3 linked regions of the Homo sapiens genome follow. The protein of the gene in region 2 interacts with the protein of the main gene of each other region in a biochemical or structural test. Each region holds a gene or a part of one and is shown on either strand. Other genes may lie near its edges.

Region 1 (8,419 bases), on a different chromosome or scaffold from region 2:
GAGGCAGGATAATTGCTTGAACCCAGGAGGTGGAGGTTGTGGTGAGCTAAGATCGCACCACTGCACTCCAGCTTGGGCAACAGAGGGAGACTCCATCTCAAAAAAAAAAAAAAAAAATTGTAAGCCCCTTGACCAGGCGTGGTGGCTCGTGCCTGTAATCCCAACACTTTGGGAGGTTGAGGCAGGTGGATTTCTTGAGCCCAGGAGTGCGAGACCAGCCTAGGCAATGTGGAGAAACCCTGTGTCTACAAGAAAATACAAAAATTAGCTGGGTGTGGTGGCACATGCCTGAAGTCCCAACTACTTGGGAGGTTGAGATGGGAGGATTGTTTGAGCCCAGGAGGCAGAGGTTGCAGTGAATTGAGATTGTGCCACTGCACTCCATCCTGGGTGCCAGAGCGAGGTTCTGTCTCCAAAAATAATAAATAATAATAATAATAATAATAATAATAATAATAATAATAATAATAAATAGATAGATAAAATTGTAAGCCCCAACTCTTGCTATCCCACCTTCCTAACTTAATTTCCTTCTTGGTCTTTATTACCACCCAACCTCCTACATCTTTTACTTATTTATTTTATTTATTGACTTTCTTCCCCACTAGACTATAAACATAATGACCATGGGAGTTTTTTTATTCACTTCTGTATATCCAGCAGTTAGAACAGTGCCTAGCCTATAGTAGGTACTCAATAATAAATGAATTGATAGGTGGATCTCCTCACTTCTGGTTCATTTCCATTCAATCCATTCCCCCATTGCTATCTGATTTATCTTTTTAAAGATACATCTTTTATTACAAAACAATTACTCTCTGGCTAAAAGTTTTGTATTGCTTTAAGATAAAATTCCTGAGGAAGGCTACCAGGCACCCTCTAATTTGGCTCCAATCTGGCTTTCAGTCTCACCTTTCCATCATGCAACACACATTTCAGCCACCCACAACTTCTCCTTTCTCCTGTTCATACCTCTTGGCCTTTGCACAGGACAGACTGTCTGTACAAAGTATTCTACCTTCTCTCCATAAGGAGAATTTCTTCATCCTTCAAGGCAGTACTGAAATGTCACTTTTATGAAGATGTCTCAATTCTACCTGACCTCCATGCTTCCCTGAATGCCAGACATCCCTCTCTTATATGTACTCTTTATCACAATGCATTGCCATTATTTGTCCATGTGTCTGTCTCGTCAGTCAGCTCTTTAAGGACGAGAAGCATGCCTGATTCATCTTTATGTCCCTGTCAACATAACCATCCCCGCCTTCAGACCTATGTACTTAATAAATAAGTTATCAATCAATTAGGCCAATGTGGTTGTCTGAATAATGGCCCCAAAGATGTCCATGTCCTAACCCCCAGAACCTGTGAATATGTTACCTTCTGTGGCAAAAAGGGCTTTGTAGATGTGATTAAGTTAAGGATCTTGAGACGAAGGAATTATCCTGGATTGTCCGGTTGGTGACCAAGGTAATCACAAGAGTCCTTAAAAGATGGAAGAGGGAGGCAGGAGAGCAGAGAAAGAGATGTAAGGTCCCATGCAGAGATTGGAGCAATGTCACTGTTGGGAGGGGGACACGAGCCAAGGAATGTGGGCGGCCTCAGAAGCTGAAAAAGGCAAGGAGTGGATTCTCCCTCTAAAGTGTCTACAAGAAACACAGCCCTGTTGTCTTGATTTCAGTCCCAAAAAACCATTTTCAGATTCTAATCTTCAGGACTAGAAAATAATAAATTTGGGTGGTATTAAGCCACTAAGATTGTGATAGTTTATTATAGCAGCAATAGGAAGCTAATAGCACCAATATTAATGAAAAATCAGAAACAGAGTGTGGTGGGCTGAGTCCTGCGTGGATAGGGCAACTGACATGGAAGTGGCAAATCAGGGTGAATGTTCCCAGCGTATCAAGAGATAGATATCATCTCCCAATGTTGCTTCATCCCTCTCACCCTGGGGTTCTTACACAATAGCAGACATTGGCAATATGTGCTACAAAACATTATGCTGTGCTAATTACCTGTTCGGCCTTCAGTCTGGGCTTCCTTGCTAAAGAGGCCTCCACTGACAGTTAGGATCTGTATCTTGTATTTCTTGCCTGGTGTTAGATCTTCAAATTTGTGTTGCTTAGTGGTGGCTGGCTCTGATGTGTTGCGCAGAAGGATTCCATTTTCAGTTAGAAGCAGGATATCATATCTTTCTGCCACACCAGCAGCTTTTTGCCAACTTACTATTAAGGAATAACTGCTGTATGCATTGTCTGCAATTACTCCTTGGACAGATGCTGGAACTGCAGAGAGACAAGTGGAGCAACAAAATACAGATTTTATCACTTAGGGTAAAGTCATCAATTGAGAAAAACTCCTGAATCAACTGCAGGTAGAAGATGATGCATTTGCTTTATTTGTGTGTCATTGACACTTTCTGTGTGCCCTTATGGAGAAAAGAGGAGAAAGGATTTGTTGGCTTAACCTGTCTGTACAACTACTTTGATTCTCCATTTTTTCTCTGATTTTAAATAGGATCTCAGATAGAAAAGTTAGTGAAAATGGCCCTGATAAATATGCAGAGTGGTGCATACCTATGAATCTAGAAAGTGAAGAATGCTGAGCAAGTTCATGTTCAGTGAATGTGGGTTTGACAGCTGAATTATGTCTCTTGTTTAGACTTTTATTACTAACATTAACTAAGGTCAAAACTTCAAGACTTGACTTCAGCAGTAGTGGATACTAGTATTTGTTCTATAGCTCCTGAGGTGAAAGGCAAAATAGTATTATTGTTATTATAATAATATTTTCTGTACTAGGTTCATTTCTTTTCTCATTCTACATAATCTTCCTAGATTTCGTCTATGTCCATGGTTTGAAGTGTCATCCATAAGGTGACAACTCCCAAATTTAAACTTTCAGTTTAGATGTTTCTCCTGCTTTTGCAAATTACATCTCTCCCTGAATGTACCACAGACATCCAACACTCAAGACGTCCAAATTGGACTCCTCATCTCCCTCCCCCAATATTCTCATTGTTTTTTTGTTTCTATCTCTTGGTTCAAGTCAGAAACTTCAGTTATCACTCTCACCCTTGTATATATAATCAAATACGAGTTTTATTTCTGTATCCTAAATCTTCTATCTCTTGAATCTAGCCACTCCCTCTTTGTGTACTGCTACTACCTCAGGACCACATCATACCCTTTAGCAAGTATAAATGAGACCATACATTATTGCAACTGCCTATTGACCAGTCACTTGTGTCCTTACCTCCTACTCTTTCAATCTGCAGACTCTATCTAGCATATTTTCATAGCACTCCCATGCTAATGGCCCTATAGTGGCTCTCCATAATTCCAAAACACCTTCACAGGCAAACAAAGCTCTTTGTGATTTGGTCTCTCTACTTACCTGGCCACATGCCTCACATTTTTTATTCTAGTATACTTTTGCTTTTTATACTTTTAGTAGAGATGGGGTTTTGCCACGTTGCCCAGGCTGGTCTCGAACTCCTGGACTTAGGCTATCCACTCACCTCAGCTTCCCAAAATGTGGGATTACAGGCATGAGCCACCGTGCCCGGCCTTTATTCTAGTATACTAAAAAAGGTGTAGGTTCCCAAATGTGCCATCCTTTCTCTCACCTCCAGGGCTTTGTTTTCTCTGTTGGAACGAAGACAACTTACACTTCACCTGGATGACTTCTTAGTCTTTCTTTAAATATTACTTCCTCCTGAAAGCCTTCCCTGACTCTTCTTGTTTGCTCCTCTAACATCTCATAACCACTTTTTTCTTAGCACGTACCATGTTTTACTGTAATTGCCTTTTTACTTTTCTATCTCCTTCACTAGATTATAAGGTTCTTGAGGTCAGGGGCTTTGCCTTGCTACTGAATGCCCACTTTCTTTTTTTGGAGACAGAGTCTCACTCTGTCACCAAGCTGGAGTGCAGTGGCATGATCTCAGCTCACTGCAAGCTCCGCCTCCTGGGTTCATGCCATTCTCCTGCCTCAGCCTCCCGAGTAGCTGGGACTACAGGCGTCTGCCATCACACCCAGCTAATTTTTTGTATTTTTAGTAGAGACGGGGTTTCACCATGTTAGCCAGGATGGTCTCAATCTCCTGACCTTGTGATCCACCCACCTTGGCCTCCCAAAGTGCTGGGATTACAGGCGTGAGCTACCGCGCCTGGCCCGAATGCCCACTTCTAACACAGGATTTGTCATAGGGTTAAAGATATGCAGATATAGATATAAATATAGATATGAAATAGAGGCATAGTAGGGCATGGTATAGAAGCCCCAGACCCCACAACTAAATAAGTGGTCATGAGAATGGGAGACATCTAAGAAGTATTGTGTCACAGTGGAGAGGGCACGAGGTTTGGGGCCAGACAGACCTAGACTTGAATTATAGCTTTAGGTCTTGTTATATACGTATCCTTGATACTGTTTTACAAGCTTTCTGAACTGTTCTTTCCTCATCTGTAAGAGAACTATAGTATGGCTAGAGATCTTTCAAAAATAATACATGAATAGTGATATTGATATAAACAGATATATTATTCATACATTTGATACTTGTTTTTTTAGCTCTACCAGGTAAAGTAGATGGCACAGATGTGTACTCTTTCTTAAAAGGTAGAACTTTTGAAAAATGCATAATTATGGAAGTCTCCTTATTAAAATTTATTTATTTATTTATTTACTTATTTATTGGGACAGGGTCTCACTCCGGTTGCCCAGGCTGGAGTGCAGTGGCACGATCACGACTCACTGCAGCCTTGACCTCCCGGGCTCAGGTGATTCTTCCACCTCAGCCTTCCAAGCAGCTGGGACTACAGGTGTGCACCACCACGCCTGGCTAATTTTTTGTATTTTTAGTAGAAATGGGGTTTAGCTATGTTGCCCAGGCTAGTCTCGAACTCCTGAACTCAAGCAATCTACCTGCCTTGGCCTTCCAGGGTGCTGGGATTACAGGCGTGAGCTACTGTGCCCAGCCTGCTTGTTAAAATTTAAAATTTTATTATCCTTTAGCAAGTATAAAAATGTGTTCAAATGATTTGGTTTCTGATTCCCTTTCATTTGTTTTGCAGATCTCTATTAAGAGAAAAATACAAAGAATAAATGAGTAAGGCTCTTGAAACCATTGAATTGTACAAACTTTGGTGGTTTTAAATCTGGATTTGTGAATAGCTGAGCCCGTTCACTGTCCCATTTTGGAGAACCATGAGGCATTCTACAATCTAGCCCTTCTCCAGGTGGATGCTTACCTGTCCGCCCAACCACATTTATCTGATTCTTCAGGGACCCGCTGACTGAGGCAATCATGATCTGGTACTGCTCCCCGGCCTCCAGTCTGTGGAACGTGTGCTCAAAGACGTGCTTGGGAATAGTCTGAGAGTCAACCTTTTGACTGTGCCTGAATGCCGACACCGTGTAGGAATCAACGTCTCCCCCACCAGGAGTCCAGTTCACCGTCAGGCTATCTGTTGCTCCATTGGGAGAAATGTGAATATTTTTGACAGCACTAGGAACTAAAACAGAAAATAAATTTAAAAGTCATCACTTAGAGAATGAACTGTTGAAATTTTCAAACAAAGTTTTGAATGCTTCTGATGTTTTGGCACCCACTGAGAGAACTCACATGAAAAAGAAAGTAACAATTTGCCACTTTTCTCTGATTTTTCTGTGTGAACTAAAGTTGATGGGGGAAAGCTTAGGGGGAAGTCAAAGCCGGTGAGTGGAAATGAGGAATGCTAATTATATAGCGAGGGGCTAGTTAGGGTGTCTTGGTCCAAGTTTTGGTTTTCTCACTCACTAGCTGTGGGACTACAGGCAAATTACTTGACCTCTGTAAGTTTTAGTTTCTTCATTAGGAAAAATGGCAGTGATGATAATACTAACCAGCCCATAGAGTTGTGAAGATTGATTCTTTTTTAATTTAATTTTATTTTATTTTTGAGGTAGGGTCTCTGTCTGTTGTCCAGGCTGGAGTGCAATGGCATGATTATGGCTCACTGCATCCTATACCTCCTGGGCTCAAGTGATTCTCCCACCTCAGCCTCCCCAGTAGCTGGGACTACAGGCACGTAACACCGTGCCCGGCTAATTTTTTTGTATTTTTTGTAGAGACAGGGTTTTGTCATGTTGCCCAGGCTGTGCTTGAACTCCTGGGCTCAAGCTATCCTCCTGCCTTGGCTTCCAAAGCATTGTGAAGACTGAACAAGATGTAGACATAAAATGCTTTGCTGTGGGTCTGGTTCATGGTGAACTGTCAGTACATGTTAACTACTATGGCAACACTCCTAAAAGAGTTCTAAAGAAGTGATACCCAAGTAACACTTAATTCTTAATCTGTGTGCCTCAGAAGCACCAGCTGATCACATCAGTTCATTGCTATTTCTCTGAAAGCACCCTCCAACCCCGCCACTCTCTGCTGACATCATACTTTATTTTCATTCATCCAGGTTGGACAACATCATTGTCACTATCAACATGACTTTGTCCCTTCTTGCTGTCTCCCTTTTATCCCTCCAAATGCTCAATCGAAATACCTGAACTACCCGAAAGTTAAATGCACCACTGCATCTATTCAGGTTCAAGAACAGTATTTCACATTACCTGTGAAGCCCTCAATGAAGGCTGACTGCTGTACATCCCCGCTAATCGTCAAGACAAGAATTTTGTATTGGCGGCCTGGTGTTAGGGAAGTAAATCGATACTCGGTTGCGGTATTTACAAGGTGAAAAGGAGGAAATACTTTCATGTCATTGAAGAGCAGCTGGATCTCATATTGGTCGACATCCCCATTAGCTCCTGACCAAGTCACATGCAAGTCCTCAGTGCTCCTGTTGCGCAATGTTAGATCCTTAACAGGCTCTGGAACTAGGGAGAAAAATGAGAAGACATTTCAGGAAAGGAACTGATCAGAGTTTACCTACATAATAATTTATGAATCACATTCAAGGAACTGGCAACATCTCCCTTCCCCAAATAAACCACTAGCACTACTTCATGCATAATTAAACAAGAAAAATTGGAAGCAACTATTAACATTGTGGTTTTTTCCTGACATAAATGTTACATGATCAGCATTGGTAGAACATAATTATAAAATGAGTTATGATCTCAATCATAAGATAAAACAAGAAGTCTAGAATCTAAATGCCATGATGCAGGAAGATAGGGAAGAAAAATGGGACATTTAGCCTTCTTGCTCCCTCACTATGTTTGCTTTTATCTACCAATAAATATTCTGTAATTATAGGCCATGGCTTGGCTGAATGATGTTAGCACCAAGTGAGACTTACTGGGAATGTAATGTACTAATGAATAAGCAGAAAAAATTCAAGGTTCAGATAAATTACTAGAGACTTTCAAGTCCAACCAACTGTCAGATTTTGCAATCGTTCCACTTACTTGTTCTCCCATTCCCTTGTTCATTGGCTTCATATTGTCCACTTTTTGTAGTAACAGTGACACTGTACAACCGTCCAGGGACTAGCTGAACAAATACACATTCGTTTTCTGACTTGGGAATGCTTTTAGTTTGAATGAAGTTGTTTTTGTTTTTAATGGTGACTTCATAGTGATCAAAGTCTCCAGTGGCATGCACCCAGGATACCCTTAAATAGTCACTCCTGGCTGAGTTGCTAACACTGACTCCCTGGACTTTGTCAGGCACTGAAAAGGAAACAGAGAGTAACTAAATATTTATGAATTCTGAGTGAGTAATTGATCACAGATGACAAGCTGGGACAATAAAAAGAGAGAGTAGATTATTATTGTGTGCATTTAAAAGAAAAATCTTAGACCTTAGGTTACAAATTTCTGGAGGGGAAAGATTGTTACACTATGTGGAGTGATTAAACGGATCTTTTAACAGAAGCTGATGAACTCATTCTAAGCCTGCTGTTTGCCTGCACAAAGTGTCATGTATAAGATGGAACATTAAACATGATGGCTGATGATTAATATGAGTGATGGTAAACGATATAGATAATTCCAACATACCTTGCTGACTCAAAAGTTACTAAGAAGAATATAAGCAATCCCCCAACCCGCCCCCCTCAAAAAAATGAGGCTATGCATGGTGGCTCACACCTGTAATCCTAACACTTTGGGAGGCTGAGGAGGGCAGATCACTTGAGGTCAGAAGTTTGAGAACAGCCTGGCCAACATGGTGAAACCCCGTCTCTACTAAAAAATACAAAAATTAGCTGGGCATGGTGGTGCACACCTGTAGTTCCAGCTACTCGGGAGGCTGAGATGGAAGAATCACTTGAACCCAGGAGGCACAGGTTGCAGTGAACCAAGATCACATCATGCCCCTGCACTCCAGCCTGGGTGATGGAGCAAGACTCCATCTCATAAAAAAAAAAAAAAAAAGAAAAGAAAAGGAAAAAGAAAAATGGAAGAAGAAACACATATGGTT
Region 2 (10,180 bases):
TAAGTTCATTTGGAAATGATGCTATAGTATGCTGCATAAAAATGAAAATTTTCTTTCCCAAAATTTACCAGAAGGTAAAAGACAGAGAAAGAAAAGAAAAATAAATGAACATGACTTTGGAGATAGAGGCATCGATAGGTCAAAGAGTTATGGAAGCAGCCTTCCAGGACTTTTTGGAAGTCTTGGCCTTAATTTCTCATCTTCCAAGAGGACAGAGATTCTCCAAAATATCCTCTCTTAGGACTTCTCACTGCCTGTCATCTGGTTTTTCCTTTATTTCTCACATTCCCTAGGTTCCCAAAGGAGAGATCAGAAATTGAGAAAACAGAGGCACTAGAGAAGGAACATTCCAGTCCCTCTTCACATCCCACAGGTCTGAGTCCTAGGCACCTACAGCCCACCACTTAGGCCAGCTTGACTGCCTAGGACCCTGGCTCCGACCTGTGCAGTGTTCTACAGATGGACAGCATAGCACCTTTGGCCTGCACTGCAACATCAGTCCCCAATGATCAAGCCAGCAGAGAAGTGGCCATGCCTTAGGTTGTGGCTGACTTTGCAGACAGAGAAGGAAAATGAAAGAGTGCCTTAAGTTCTACTTCTCAAAAAAAAAAAAAACTTTTGGGTACTAGGCTTAATAGCTGGGTGATGGAATAATCTGTACAACAAACCCCCATGACACGAGTTTACCTGTATAACAAACCTGCACATGTAACCCTAAGCCTAAAATAAAAGCTTAAAAAAAATAGGTCTACTGCTCCCAGTTAAACGACTGCATCATTCACTACAGAACCGGAGACAATTTAAAATAATTATAACAGAGGCCGGGCACAGTGGCTCACACCTGTAATCCCAGCACTTTGGGAGGTTGAGGTGGGTGGATCACTTCAGATCAGGAGTTCAAGACCACCCTGGCCAACATGGTGAAACCCCGTCTCTAATAAAAATACAAAAACTAGCATGGTGGCGGGAGCCCGTAATCCTAGCTACTCAGGAGGCTGAGGCAGGAGAATCACCTGAACCTGGGAGGCAGAGGTTGCAGTGAGCTGAGATCACACCTTCGCACTCCAGTCTGGGCCACAAAGCAAGACTCCATCTCAATTAAAATAAATAAATAAATAATTATAATGGAAGTGCAGTCATTCTGGAAAGACACAGACTTAAGACAGCTGTGTGACTTTGGATAGGTTACATGATCTCTCTGAGCCTCATTTCCCTCAATGTAAACCGAGAAGGGTGATACCTATTCTGGAGTTCTTTTAATGAGGATGTAAGCAGAGCTCCAGACTCATGATGAATACATGGTACACATTTAATAAGTGACAGCTAAATACATTATACCTTTGCCTGATTTTAGGAGAGAGGTCATAAGCTGGATGTGAAAATGAACCAAATCACTAACAAAATTGCAGCACCCTGTTGGAGACGGTAATTTTTTCTTAATTTTTCTGCCTACAATTTCCTAGGTCTTCTAATTAACATTGTGATACTTTAGCTTGTAGCCTAGCAGTCTTGTTCTTGTCCTCAATATTAAGTATGCTCAGTCATATTTTTAGATAACTTAACATTGCATATTTATTTTTAGACAGCCCAGCCACACATAAATGACCAATACAAATCAACATAAAAGCAGTTCATATCCAAAGTGCCCAGTTTTAACCCTCTGTAGCTGGCAGTTCCATTTTTAACGCGAAGTTTCCTAAAATGTATAATCTATAAAACTAATTTTATAGAAAATTGACACTGAAGATATTAAGAAAAATCAAAGCATTTTGTGGTCAATTAAATTGGGGAGATGGTAGGGTAAGCAAAGTTAAGAAGGGTTTTTTTGGTTTTTGGTTCGGTTTTGCTGTTTTGTTTTATCACATGAATTTTCAAAACCTTCAACATTCGAACATACATGACATAGCTCTAAAAAGGTAATAGGAGTCCTACATTTCCAAATTTTATCTGTGCTCAGAAATGACATTAGGTGACATTACCTGAATTCTTCTATTGTCTTTTTGTAGAGACATTTGCCATAGGCACAATAATAGGGGTGATGGGGCAGGAGGAAGGGAAAAACAGAGTGAAAGAAGGAGTTCCAGAGTAACTACTCTTTAAGGCAGGGATCACAGATCCTAATGCCTACAGGAGAAAGTGAAATCAAGATCAGAGGTGGGCCAGACACAACCCAAGAGAAGATGGTAGGTCAATGGCAAACAGCAGATCATATGGTCTTTCTACCTCAATTCACACTTTTAAAAACATTCTGTGCACCTGTATATGTCTGTGGGCCCTATTCACCATACATTGCAAGCATGAAGCCCCTATTCTTAGGAGACTGCTTTCATTTTTATTTCAAAAACAGCACCAACTTCAAGAGTGCCTTCAAAGACCCAAATTTTAATGTGTTAAAGGGAGGGAAAAAAAGATAGAGCATATTAGAGCAGGAGGTGGCTGTTCCTCTGTCTCTTTGTCACAGCTATCACTAGACCCATCTCAAAGTTAAGAGATGGGATCCTGTTTGTAGTTCAACATTATGTTATCCACAGGTGGATGGATAAGACCTGCTTATGCCTTTGGATCATTTATATTTTACCAGACACTGTTCCATGTGCTCTACTTGTAGCTCCTCATTTTATCCTCACAATAACCCTATCATGATCCCCATTTCACAGATGAGACACGAGAGAGTTTAATCCACTGGCCTGTAGCTACACAGCTAGCAAGAGACATAGCTGGGATTGAAATCCAGGTTGTTTGGTTCTAAAACTCTTAACTATTATGCTCAACTCAGTCTTGGAGATGTTGTTCCCAATTTGAGGGGTCTATCAGTTTTAATTGCTTTCAGCTGCAGGTGACAGAAGTCCCAGCTACCAGTGTCTAGAACAAGTTTTGTTTTTGTTTTTTTTCCACAAAACAAGAAATCTGGAAGCAGGTGTCTACTGGCAGTAGGGCTGTACCTCAGCAATGTCAGCACCAACTTCTGCATGCTGGTCACAAGATGGTTAGTTCTTCACTGGGCATCATATATGAAATCAAGAAGCAAGAAAGGAAAAGGGGTGGCACCAGCCTTAAACCCTTTCCCACAAGGCCCCATCAGACTTCAACTTATACCTCATTACCAGAATGACATCACATGGCCATGTCTAGCTGCAAAGGAGTCTGGGAAAGCAAATATTTCTCTTTTCAAGCCCCAAGAGTGGAGGCAGGAACAGGAAAATCTCGTTGGGAACAGATGCTGGCTTAGCCAGCCAACAGTGTGGACCACAAGAGATTTGGTTTGGTTAAGAAAATACCAACAGAACTTCATCATACAGTGTATCACCCATGACATGAACCCAAGGAAAGTTAAATAGCAACAATTAAAAGTTTGCTGCAAAACCAAAATTGAATTATAGAACTCCTATTACCTTTTAAAATATCTGTTTCCATTCATTTCCAAAAATCTGAAATTATCTGTAAACATTTTCCCAATCAAATCTGTCTAGGTAGTGTGTAAAAATTACTTGACCTTCACACACCCAGATACTTTTAGTTATGCTATTGTTAGTTATGTTATTTCATAAAATGTTATCTCCTTATTTACAGTTGATAAATGAAATGATGATTTTCAATACAGTTTCAAAACTGGATTGAAATTTTGTTAGTTATTAGAAACTAGAAAGTTTCAGTGCTGAAAATACACAACGGGTTGTTTGTATTTATCATCTATTTTATTTTCCAGTTTGCATTGGCTTTTCTGGGTCTTTCTACAACTTTAATTGTAAATTTTTTCTTTTATATTTTTATCATGGCACTCAAACTCAGAAAACCTGTTAAGGCAACTACATAATGTGATCTAAAAATCCAGTTAACATATTGCTATGGAAACCAGGAAATAGAAACAGCACTCTAATCATTCCTTTAGACAACTATGGCTCTGTGTGTGTGTGTGTGTGTGTGTGTGTGTGTGTGTAAAACTTTTTAAATTCATTAATTTATTCATCTTTTATTGAAAGCTGTTACTGAACCCAAAATCTGTAATTGATCTGTCCATAAATAGGCCCAGTGCCTTATTACCAGTAAATTAGTGTTTTTTAATGAGCTATAGTCATTGATAAATTATGCCATGCCGTATCAGGAAATCTCCAGTCAGGCCGCGTTGTTTATTTAGCCTGCTGAGGCCTCTTGGTATGGTGTGAAGGACACCTGACTGGGCTGAAAGCTAAGTTCTAACTTTGCCCCTCTTACTAACCAGCTATGTGACTCTCCTGGGAACTTTTAGGGACTCAGTTTCTTTACCTGCAAAATGGTTCAATGCAAGACTTTAGTAACGTAATGGGAACTTTCCTTTTCCATAAAACTGGGGAATCAAGAGGTAATCTCTTTTGAGGACTGAAATCACTCTTATGTAACCTCTGGTTACATTATCATTTCCAAGTGCCTGGCACTTGGGAAATGATAACTATTCTTACTACATTTTTCTATGTTTCATTCTGTAGTAAATAAGAACTGAACCTGCATAGTAACTGTTATTTTAACCCATGACTTTCAATAACGAAGATATCTATGTCTCATTATCTATTGCCATGATTGAACAAGTTGGTATGAGAGCCGGAACGAACTCAAGTTCTAACCGGCAATGCCCGTTCCTTAGATCCTATTACCTTTGAGTGTTCATTTACTCTTGTAGGTGCCAATTTTTATAGCGAAATACAAAGTTATCCCAACACAATTACTCCTAATAGAGTTCACCGAGGCCCCAAAAGCTCTTTTTTAAAAATCATCATAAGATTTCAACATTCAAGAATTAAACTTTTGTTCTGTTGTGCTTATTCATCGCTATTTGCCCAGTTATTTAATCAGCCTGCTTCCGGCTATGGAAAAAAAAAAAAAGAAAAAAAGAAATGGAAGTCTCCTCAGGGTTAAACTCCTCTGTTGTTCTTCCTTGCAGAAATTTGAGTTATTATAGTAGAGGATAATCGTTGCATAATGAAATCATTGGGACAATTCGTCCATCCACTTCTACCTCCGCCTCTAACAATGAACTCCTTGTTTCTGCGGTGCCCAAATCTCTCTAAACCCGGGTGGGCGCGGGGCGGTTAGCGGAGACGTGGGAGAGGCCGAGAGCAAAGCTCGCGCCCTTCCCGGGGTCAGCGAGCGGGGTGCCAGGAGGGTGCGCGCCCTGCATCTGAGCCCGGGGTGACACTCGCCTCCCAAGCGCCAGGAGGGGGAGACTCGGTCCCGCTTATCTCCGGCTGTGCTAACTTCAGACTGCCTGAGCTGGGGGAGGAGAGCGCGCAGCCAGGGCGAGAAAACTTCTCCACCTAGAAAGTTTCACCTTGTCGTGGGCGGGGCAGAGGCGGGAGGAAACGCGACCCCCGCGGGGCCAGGCGCGGCGCGGACGGCAGGAAGGGCGGGGGCCGATTTCCCTCTGGGTGGTGCCAGTCCCCACCTCAGCGGTCCTCGGAACCCGCGGACTAGGGGACGGACAGCACGCGAGGCAGACAGACACGTGCTGGGGCGGGCAGGCGAGCGCCTCAGTCTGGTCGCCTGGCGGTGCCTCCGGCCCCAACGCGCCCGGGCCGCCGCGGGCCGCGCGCGCCGATGCCCGGCTGAGTCACTGGCAGGGCAGCGCGCGTGTGGGAAGGGGCGGAGGGAGTGCGGCCGGCGGGCGGGCGGGGCGCTGGGCTCAGCCCGGCCGCAGGTGACCCGGAGGCCCTCGCCGCCCGCGGCGCCCCGAGCGCTTTGTGAGCAGATGCGGAGCCGAGTGGAGGGCGCGAGCCAGATGCGGGGCGACAGCTGACTTGCTGAGAGGAGGCGGGGAGGCGCGGAGCGCGCGTGTGGTCCTTGCGCCGCTGACTTCTCCACTGGTTCCTGGGCACCGAAAGGTAAAATTGCAGCCCCTTTCAGATCCAGTACCCAATCCCTCGCCTCAGGGGTTCTGCTTTCTTTGTTCCCCTAAGAGACCTGACTGCTGTTCCAGGGGGCAAAACCACGTAGGTGGGCTAGAGTTTAGGGGCTTCGGAAACTGAAGAGACGTGGCCACGGCGAGGACGAAACTAGAATGGGGCTTGTCTTTTTAGGGGGTTGCTTCTGATGGCCACCTGTATGACTTAGGAGGGAGAGGGGCGCTGGGACAGTGGGTGATGTGTGACTGTTACGGCCCAGCAAGTTTTAAAGCTGGGATCTGACTCAGCCCTTACAAAAGGGATCCGGTCATCCTCGTCCCACCGTGATGCAGCTGGCAAGGTTTGAGCCGAGCTGTTTCCTTGTTCCCAGCCTTGCTTTATCTGTGTTATGTTGGGGTCCTTCCAAGGGGCAGGTGTTTCTGTGAAAGTCTGAATTCATTTCTGGCAATCACGCGGGGCTTGTGATCCATCAATTTTCCATCGTACCTTATCTCTTTCTGGGGCTTGTGGTGGACATCTATCTTATTAGGTGAAATAGATTATAACCAGAGGCTGAGCGATGTGGCCAGTCGTAGTGCTGACCCGATAATTAAAGCACCAGTGAAAGTACTTTCCCTGACTATTGTCAATGCAGAATTTACTCCGAAGTACGGTTTCCCATTCATATCTTTCATGTTTTAAAAGAGCCATTTGCTAATTTGGCAGTTGGAGAGGGCTCCAATGGCTCACGCATGAATAGTTGCCCAGTGTATTTTACCTTATCACAGTTTTATGTTCAAAGGAGCCCTCGGGCAGAATGAAATATTGTCAACTCTCTTAGGCAAAATAATCAAGATACTTTAATTGCTATGTTAAGATGGTCCATGAATGTGAGAGGATTGTAAGAACTGACGTTGGAGGCAATATAGACTATCTGGACCCTCTCTTGAATTTTAAGAAGACTGTTCACATTCTGTAGCTTTGGGTGGGGGTTTATTCTGTCGCTTTCATCAGCCAGACACATGCACATTGCCATGCAAATGGATTCAGAAAAACATTATATTCCCTTACAGCTAAACTATTATAGCTGACTAATGAATTTTTTCTGCATGAAGATGATCTGAAAATGATGTACATCATGTTTCTCTGTGCTACAGGGACATAAATTGCATTTTTATGTAAACAGTGTAAGTGGTGCTTGGATTATTTACAGGTACATAGCTTTCCTTCCTTGATCTAAGCTAATTGAGCTTTGTTTTGAACGTGTAAACTTCCATAATGGAACATAAGTGAGGTACTTTGGTTCCTATCATTTGCAAGTCTGTGGTGTATTCAATGTTCATTCTTTTTGAACTGCTGAATAACAGAGGGAAAATTTACATCATTCATAAGAAATTTTGGTAGTACAAAAATGTGTCTGATAGCCTATAAAATGTACTGCTGTTTTAAAAATTCTATTCCGTTTTCAAACTTAATGGTGTATAAGCTATAGTTATTAACTTAAATATATTTTGCTTTTAACATGATGGAATTTGTGGCATATAGAAGACAGTCTGCCGACTACTGCTTTTTCAAAATTGCTTTGTTCTTGATACATGGCAGTAGGGGTTTACATTAGATGTATACTACATGCTTTCAAAATTAGTTGATGGAGTTTATCTTCATGATAAAAAATGTACCAGATTAATCATAGCCAGTCAATACGAAAGCTCATAACTAATATTTTCACTACTTTTAAACCTATAATAGAGAAAAATGACCCTTTGCTAAGCAGGAGAAATACCCATATTTTATAAATTCCTTTTAAGACTATGTAAGTATATGCCTTGCATTAATCTTGAAATCTTTAAAAAAAAATTGTCTTAATGAGGGCTAGACTAAGAAATACATTTCAAAAATCAATTTCCTTAGCTGTTTTTAAAATAGTGTTTGAAGTAGCATTAGTCATATTATCCTTCTGCAGATCTACATAATAGTCTCAAATTAACTTTTTCTCAAATGTGGTCATCTCAAAACAACGTGAATAACTCAGAGGAGCTAACATCCTCTAACTGGCTTATTTTCTCCAAGTGGCTGCACCAAAGACATGGCAACACCCCCATGGTGAGCACAGTTCCTCACACATTCAGATTACCTCCCATTTCTCTGTCCTCTTCCTCCTCAACCCTTTCCCTTGGTTTGGTCAGAGCTGCTTTCAAGGCCTTCCGTGCCCCCATTTCTCCAGCCCAGTTTGCTCGTTTCTTCTTTAGGCATTAGGCTTAGTGATTCTCGCCAGAGCCATCTACGCTTTCTTTTCCGTGGTCTAAATCCCTAAGATTTCCTTGGTCTGCTGTGTTTATTCATAGGATACTCAATTTCCTCATTGTGCCCTCTTAAGGGGAGAAAATGTATGTAGAAACTCAAGTGTCCGGAAGTGAGCCTTCTTTTCCTGGCTGGTGTATGCTGAAACTAGTGTTTTTGACACCAAGCCCTTAGGGCAGAGTTTCTTCATGGGTTTTGCTCAGTGCAAAATAAATAGTCACTTCTCAGTAATAAATGATAGATACACTGACTAATGTTAGTTCAGAATCACTTTGATGATGTGTTCTCAACTGACACTGAGTTGCTGCTAGATCCACATTTGCCTGACCAAAAATAGCTAGGACCTATAGGTAGAGTATCATATGTGCTAGGTACTACAGCATTTTCTTTAAAAGAAAGAAATGGAATCTGCCCTTGAGAAGTTTATGATCTAGATACACAGACAAATATCACATATTAAATGAACACAAATTCATAATTATTAAGAGGACATCACATGAGAAACGCTTTCAAAATCATCCTATTTGCTATGAAATAATAGAATTTTTTTTTAAAAATCAAAGTTTGGAACTTAAAAACCTTAACATTTTCAAGCTGTTTCTGCATACATCACCTTTCTGATACCAAAACGACCTTACAAGATAGGCAAGTCTGATAACATCTTAACATTCTTATGTTATAGACAAGGAAACTGAGCTTGAGACTAGCTCCATGCTATTTCAATAGCACCATACCACCTTTCCTCAGCCATCAACTATTGGAAACATTTTCCATGGAGGCATCATTAGGGATGCTTAAGATAGTGGTAAATGATGAATATAACATATCTAGTCCCTGGAGTTTTTGTCACCTTCTCTTTCTCCAGTTCTCTCTCTCTTTTTTTTTTTTAATTTCTTTTCTTTTCTTTTTTTCTTTTCTTTGTAGTGAGACATACCGAGAAAAGGTTTCATTCATATGTGTGGGGCATTCTGCTCCTGTTATCAGATTAAGAGCCGTGAATAATTTTGTAATCTATCCTTCTATCAGAAAGCCCATTCTCAGATATCTTTTCAGCTGTGTTAAACAGGTTAGTATATTCCGCTTGGGATTTGTTTCAATAAAAACATCCAGTAAAATCTGACTACTTTGCTTTTCATGGGACAAAATGAAAAAAGTGCTTTTATAAGCTGTAAAACTTAATTGAGAGAAAAAATCACGTGTGGCATTTGTAGCAGGAGGTATGAGCTCAGTGAAATAAAAAAGTTAACTTTGTAATCACATACCCAGGTACACATATTTCTCTCTGTGATTGCATAAATGTGTGCAAGTATGTTTATGTAGGTTACTCCCATTGATTTTAATTTCTATAATAAATTATGTAGCTATAGGGCCCACAGGCGATTATATAATGGGCAATAGAATTTGAAAATGTATCTCTCCTAATATAATTAAGGATAGCAATTATGAAATGTGCTTAGAGAATCACAAGTTATCGTGAAAGCCAGGTTCCTGTACTCCAAGAATGTGAATGAGGATTTAGTCATTCATTCAGGACAATTTTTTGACAACCTACGAGGCATAGTTCTAAAATCTGGCATTTCCACAGAGTATAAAACAGATGAAAACCTCTAACCTCATGACACTCTGTTCTATTGAGTTGGCAAACAATAAAGAAATACATAACTGAAATGTGTTGTATGTCAGGTGATGATAATAGCTTCAAGGTAGAATAAAATGGAAAAGAGAATAGTGACTGTCAAGGATAAGAGAGAGTGGGATGGTGATTGAAAAACTCAATAGTGAGGTCAGGGAAGGCTTGTCTTCAAAGGTGGGCTTTGGGCTAGAATCTGAAGGAGATAAGGAAGTGAGCCAGGCGCATATGAGGAGCACTTCTCAGGAGTGCTATTCTCATCTTGTTTTTCCTGAAATTGTGCAGTTCACAGCTTGCACAACTGTCCATAGACTCCCTGATTTTGGAGGGAGATACCTGAATAGTGCCCCTGTTTTTGTAGGGAAATACCTGGACAGTGCCTGCCATCATTAGCTAC
Region 3 (5,410 bases), on a different chromosome or scaffold from region 2:
GTCACCCAGACCGGAGTGCAGTGGTATGATCTCAACTCACTGCAGCCTTGACCTCCTGGGCTCGAGTGATCCTCCCACCTCAGCCTCCTGAATAGCTGGGACCACAGGAATGCGCCCCCATGCCCAGCTAATTTTTGTATTTTTTGTAGAGATGGGGTTTTGCCATGTTGCCCAGGCTGTTCTCGAACTCCTGAGCTCAAGGGATCCACCTGCCTCAGCCTCCCAACGTGCTGAGATTATAGGCGTGAGCCACTGTGCCCAGGCTCTTTAGTTGAATTTGCTACTTTTTCCTTGTATAAGAAGAAAGCCGTTTCAAGAGAGAACTGAGGTTTAAGTACCTGTCCTCTTTGGGGTCTTACAAATACACAGTTTCAAAGGTCCTTGAAGAAGGCACCTGAGGGCCTGGGCACTTGAGAGGCTGGGAAGGGCCCAAATCCTTTAGGACAGGATGTGTCACAGAAGGGGTGCCAACCTCAGTAAGACTCAAAACAGAGACCAGACACACATGACTGCTCATGGATGTGTATTTTAATAAAAATAATTCTGTCAAAATACAACAGAGTTTTTTTTTTGTCTCTCAAGTACAATTTTAATAAGATGTTTTGTGTTAGAGTTCTCTCTCCATCCTCCCACACCCACAAGTTTCATGCTAATGCCAAGTATCAACTCTTGAGGACAAAGGCAAAACCAGTGTGCACAATGTGGAGGATGTCTGTTGCAGCTGTAGTTACTAATGCAGGAAAACCCAATGCAAAGAGGAAAATGCCTGAGGCAGCCAGAGGCCACAATCTGGCCACAGGTCTGGGTGCATGAGACTGGCAGTCTAGTAGGGCTCCGCTGCCTGGCTGCCACATGGGTGCATACCTGAGTTGTGAGCAACCAAAGGAACTTTCAGCTCTGACAATTCTCTGCCTCATCTTCTTTGTGCTTGCTTAAGGAGTGGGAAGGCGCTAGGTGGCCAGGCAGTCCCCACTTCTGTCTCGTGGTGTCCATTTTGATGGCCTGCACCCAGCCACAGACCCATGAGGATGGGGATGGGGGTTCTGGCTTGCTATGAGTGCCAGTTTTTGCTCTGGAAGGAGTGACCATTTGGTGCCGCAAGGGGAAAGTGAGTAGGGAAGGCTGCTCCCCAGGGCCGGACAAACCAAGAAAGCCAGGTCTTCCTCCTGCCTCCATGGGTCAGGTCCAGCCCTTCACCAGGGCTCCCCCAGGTGCCTTTCCCACTCTAGGCTCCTGGAAGCAGGCTGGTAGGACTGGATGTGCATAAGGGGCACCTCTGGCTGGCAGGCAGGCAGGCCTGGACTCTCAGCAAGAGAGTGGGCTCAAGCAGCTTGGTTTTGGCCCTCTCCACAGCTTGTGGGGCAAAGGCTTATGTCCCAAAGGTGAGCTGCCCAACTGGGACAGAGAGCCCCTCTGGAGAGGAACAGAGTAAACAACTTGGACTCAGCTGAAACAGTGAGATAAGGCACAGAAAATGGGGAGGTGGCCATGGGTACCAAGTGCGAGCCAGGCAGACACCCAACCCCATGCAGCACACAGCTGTCCCGAGCCCTCCTGGGCCCTCTCAGCCACTCCACAACCTAAGCTCAGGCACCCGTCCTCATCCCTGACACACCCCTGAAGGTAGCAGCTTCTCAGATACTGCTGGAGGGCACATCAGCCTGACCCCTCATGGGGTTTATCTGCCATTCGGTTTCAGGACTAAATAGTGTTGCCCAACCCACAGGGATAAGGGATAGTCCCGGCTCTGCTACTAATTTGCTATGTGACTTTAGCCAAGTCACTTAATCTCCTGGGCCTGTTTCCTTATTTGTAGCAAGAGAGGAATGGGGGAGATGTTCACTGAACCCCATTCCAGCTGCAAAAGCCTGTGGTTTTAATCCAATCCTGCTAGGCTATGATCATTTAAACAGCCTGATGTCTCCAACTTCTGGGTTTGGGAGCTAGGTAGCCCCAGGCTGTCACAAGAGATGAATTTCCTTTACAGACAGGACGCCTCCTAACAGGCCATGGTCTATGGGTCTGCCAGCCCCAAGGACCAAGAAAAAGCAGCAGCTATAGGATCATTTCCCAAGGCAGAATTCTGACAGCACAGGGCCCAGGGCCCTGGCCCCATCACCAGCAGTTGGTCCAATTCAAACATTTTTCTTGTTGCCCAGCTGTGGGCCCAGTGAGGCCTGGTGAGCAATGGGTATCTCAGGCCACACCAACCATTCCCATGTCCACCAATATGGAGCAGGAGCTTGCAAAGCCCAGATTCAGGCAGGGACTGAAAGTTCAACTTCCGGCCTTGCCATGGCTGACCCTACTCTTTGCATGGGCGGCTTGTGCACTCCCCTCACAATGTGAAGCACATATGGAAATTCCAGCCGTCCTGGTGCTCCTCTGTGTAGACTTCCTCCCTTTCCTCCTCCAGGGCAGCCAGTCCTCTCCACAGGTGGGCCACCCCAAGTCCTGGCAACCATCTCAGTCTTTCCTTTCCTGATTCCCCAATGGTAGCGGGACCACTTTTACTCTGCCAGCTGTAAGGATCTATCTGAAACAGCTGGTGGGACATGTGTAAAGCTGATAGAGTCCCATTCTCTGGCCAGCAAATACTCCCAATAGTCTTTCCTAAGAGTGGCTAGGGCCCAGCTGCAGGGAGCTGTCTGGCACAGTGGCAGTGAAGTCTGGCCTAGGGGACCAAGGATTCCATCCACTCCCTGGAGTAGCAGCCCAAGAACCTGCCTCCACAAGGTACTGGTTTCTCAACAGAAAGCATCCATTCTCTCAGAGCTGTGCAGAGATGGTGAAGATCTAGGCAGGAAGAAAGCAGCCCCTGTACTCAAGGGCCTCTGTCCTGGGAATGGAGTCTTCTTTCCAGCAGCCTGACACACAGAAGCTCTCAGGACGAAGGCAGGTAGTTTCCAGGCAATCAATTTAGAGTAAATGTATTATTTGGCCATCTTAACAACAAGGGAAGATAGGGTATTGAAAAGGGAGGAAAGGGGAGCAAGGCAGGCAGTGGGAGGTGGGGTAGAGTGGTAGATAGTGTGCTGGCCAAGGACCCTCTACCTCTGCTGTGTGGCCCTGGGCCAAGTTATCACTTCTCTGGACCCTTGGCCCTGTAGTTCTCTGCTCTGTCCAGCTCTCAGGGGCCTAGGGATCTACAGTTCTTGGGATGCTATAAACCAATGTAACCATGCCCACTAAGTGGCCCACCAAACCCTATTTGGGTTTCCTAGGCTGCAGCTCGGCCTGTGACTCAAAAAAGGGGGAGCAAAAAATAAATCACTTGGCTGAGGTGACAGAGATTCTTCTTTTTTAATGAGTTGGACTCAAAGAAAACATGGTGCCTGGACAGCCTCACCCAAGAGGTGCTGGACCACTAATGCTACGATAAATACTGTCTTTTTTTTTAATATATATATTTTTATATATATATATATAATCTCATTTGTTTTTTACTTATGAAAATAATAAGCTATCACCAACTTGGATAGGCTTCATCACTAAATTAGCAGAAACCAGCTCAGCACAAACTCTCCAGAGATAAATACTGGTGGCTCAGTCAGGAGAAAAAAATTTAAAAACCCCAACCCCTCCTCAAAACAAAACCCCCCTTTCAAAATAGAAGGCGCTACATGAGAGTAACCAGCCAATACTGTGTTACAGGCCGCTGCACGTGAAGGGGAGAGAGAGAGAGACTGAGCGGGGTGGTGGGCAGAGAAAGGAAGGAAGGAAGGAAAGGGAGAGGGGGAAAGGCCAGGCAGGAGGAGTGGACTCTGTCTATGGTTTCCCAGTCCCTGCACCAGTTGCCTATGGAGGGCAGGGCAGCTCCAGCCCTGGGGCCAGTGGAGGGCCAGCCAGAGCCAGCCAGCACAGTCAGCTAGTGCAAGTAGTCATCAACTCTGGCAAAGGAGCAAGAACCCAGGCCTGCTCGGGCCATGAGCCGGAGACACTCAGATGCCTGGCCCAGGGCGAGCATCAGAGGGGGCTGCTTTGGCAGGTTCTGGGACTCTGTGGAGGAAAGACAAGGCCTGGTCACTGGCCTGCCCAGGGCTTGGGCCCAGGTCAAAGTTCCCTTGGGGGTGGAAGGAGGGGGCAGTGGACAGATTCTCTTGGAACAGAGTGTTCAGTACCTCTGTGTAAGTGTGTCCCAGCCACCAGGCCATGGCCCTGAAGTCATGCCAGGAACCTGAGGACCTTAGCCCCATGTAGAGCGCTGGGCTGGCCTGGGCCTACTGCCATGGCCTAGGACCCATCATGAACTCAGCTGGGCAGACAGAGGTCAAGGTTTAGGTTCAACCATGGGAGCCCAGGAGTCCTATGAGTCACCAGAGAGGGCCTGTACAGAGCTTGCTGCCCCAGTGTGGATAAACATCAGCTCTTTCTGGGGCCAATTGGGGTGGGGGTTGGGAACCACCCAGGTAGCTATGGGCTAGCTTCTGTTTTTGTTAGATCCACTCACCTAGGCCAGGCATGGTGGCTCACACCTGTAATCCCAGCACTTTGGGAGGCTAAGGCGGGCAGATCACCTGAGGCCAGGAGTTCGAGACCAACCTGGCCAACATGGCAAAACCCGTCTCTACTAAAAATACAACAACTAGCCAGGCGTGGTGGCACGCACCTTAGTCCCAGCTACTCAGGAGGCTGAGGCACGAAAATTGCTTAAACCCAGGAGGCAGAGGTGGAGATTGCTGTGAGCCAAGATTGTGCCACTGCACTCCAGCTTGGGCTACAGAGCAGACTCTGTCTCTAATAATAATAATAAATAGATTCACTCACCTAAAATGGCGCTGTTGAGGGCAGCACACACAGGTTCCCTCTGGATGGGGTCAAGCTGCTGGCCAACTGGGCAGCTCCAGGGGTCTGAGTATGCCAGCAGGCTGAAGGCATCCTACAGGACAGGGCATTCTTGAGAGGACTGTGGCACACACCATAGCTCACCCTGCTACCCGTGGCTCCAGAGGGAGACAGGGCCCTGCATGATGCCCAGCCTGGAATGTGGGGTGTAGGGTCGGGCAGGGCTGTACTCTCCCCAGAGCCTAGGTGTGGAGGGCACATGTCCAGTGGGCCCAGATGCCCCACTTCCCTCTGCAGACCTGGCTGGAGCCCACTCTTTCCTGCTGCCCCCTGGACTCTCCCAGAGCCACCCTGCCCCCAACACCAAATGGGGCCTGCTCTGCATGAGGCCCGGCTCATCCTGTACCTGCAGCATCTCTGTGTGGGCCAAATTCTTGCCGTACTCCCGGCCCAACTGCTCACTCAATGCCTGCAACTCGCGGCCAAACAGAATGATCCTTTCTGTGGCAGCCTGGTTGCCCCCGCAGAGCTGCCGCCGAGGATGCCTGTCATCTGCATCCAGAACCCAGTGGAGAACGTGTTAGGAGGGGTGAAGAGGGAAGGGCAGGACTAGGGTGGGGCAGGA

Evidence for each region. The genes of interacting proteins can lie anywhere in the genome.
Region 1: of the proteins of MET (region 2) and PTPRB, one has a biochemical effect on the other in vitro, tested with the Homo sapiens proteins (one study listed by IntAct).
Region 3: the proteins of MET (region 2) and RANBP10 form a complex in vitro, tested with the Homo sapiens proteins (one study listed by BioGRID).

Annotation. Positions count from the first base shown.
Region 1 is NC_000012.12:70,564,420-70,572,838, forward strand, and holds part of PTPRB (receptor-type tyrosine-protein phosphatase beta), read right to left. Parts: intron 7,669-8,419; coding exon 7,405-7,668; intron 7,032-7,404; exon of another isoform or gene 6,871-7,031; coding exon 6,607-6,870; exon of another isoform or gene 5,520-6,606; coding exon 5,256-5,519; exon of another isoform or gene 5,079-5,255; intron 2,286-5,078; coding exon 2,016-2,285; intron 1,486-2,015; exon of another isoform or gene 1,381-1,485; intron 1-1,380. UniProt on the Homo sapiens protein: Plays an important role in blood vessel remodeling and angiogenesis. Not necessary for the initial formation of blood vessels, but is essential for their maintenance and remodeling. Can induce dephosphorylation of TEK/TIE2, CDH5/VE-cadherin and KDR/VEGFR-2.
Region 2 is NC_000007.14:116,666,726-116,676,905, forward strand, and holds the start of MET (hepatocyte growth factor receptor isoform b preproprotein), read left to right. Parts: upstream 1-5,470; 5' UTR 5,471-5,852; intron 5,853-10,180. UniProt on the Homo sapiens protein: Receptor tyrosine kinase that transduces signals from the extracellular matrix into the cytoplasm by binding to hepatocyte growth factor/HGF ligand. Regulates many physiological processes including proliferation, scattering, morphogenesis and survival.
Region 3 is NC_000016.10:67,722,560-67,727,969, forward strand, and holds the end of RANBP10 (ran-binding protein 10), read right to left. Parts: intron 5,338-5,410; coding exon 5,192-5,337; intron 4,880-5,191; coding exon 4,768-4,879; intron 4,000-4,767; coding exon 3,869-3,999; 3' UTR 511-3,868; downstream 1-510. UniProt on the Homo sapiens protein: May act as an adapter protein to couple membrane receptors to intracellular signaling pathways.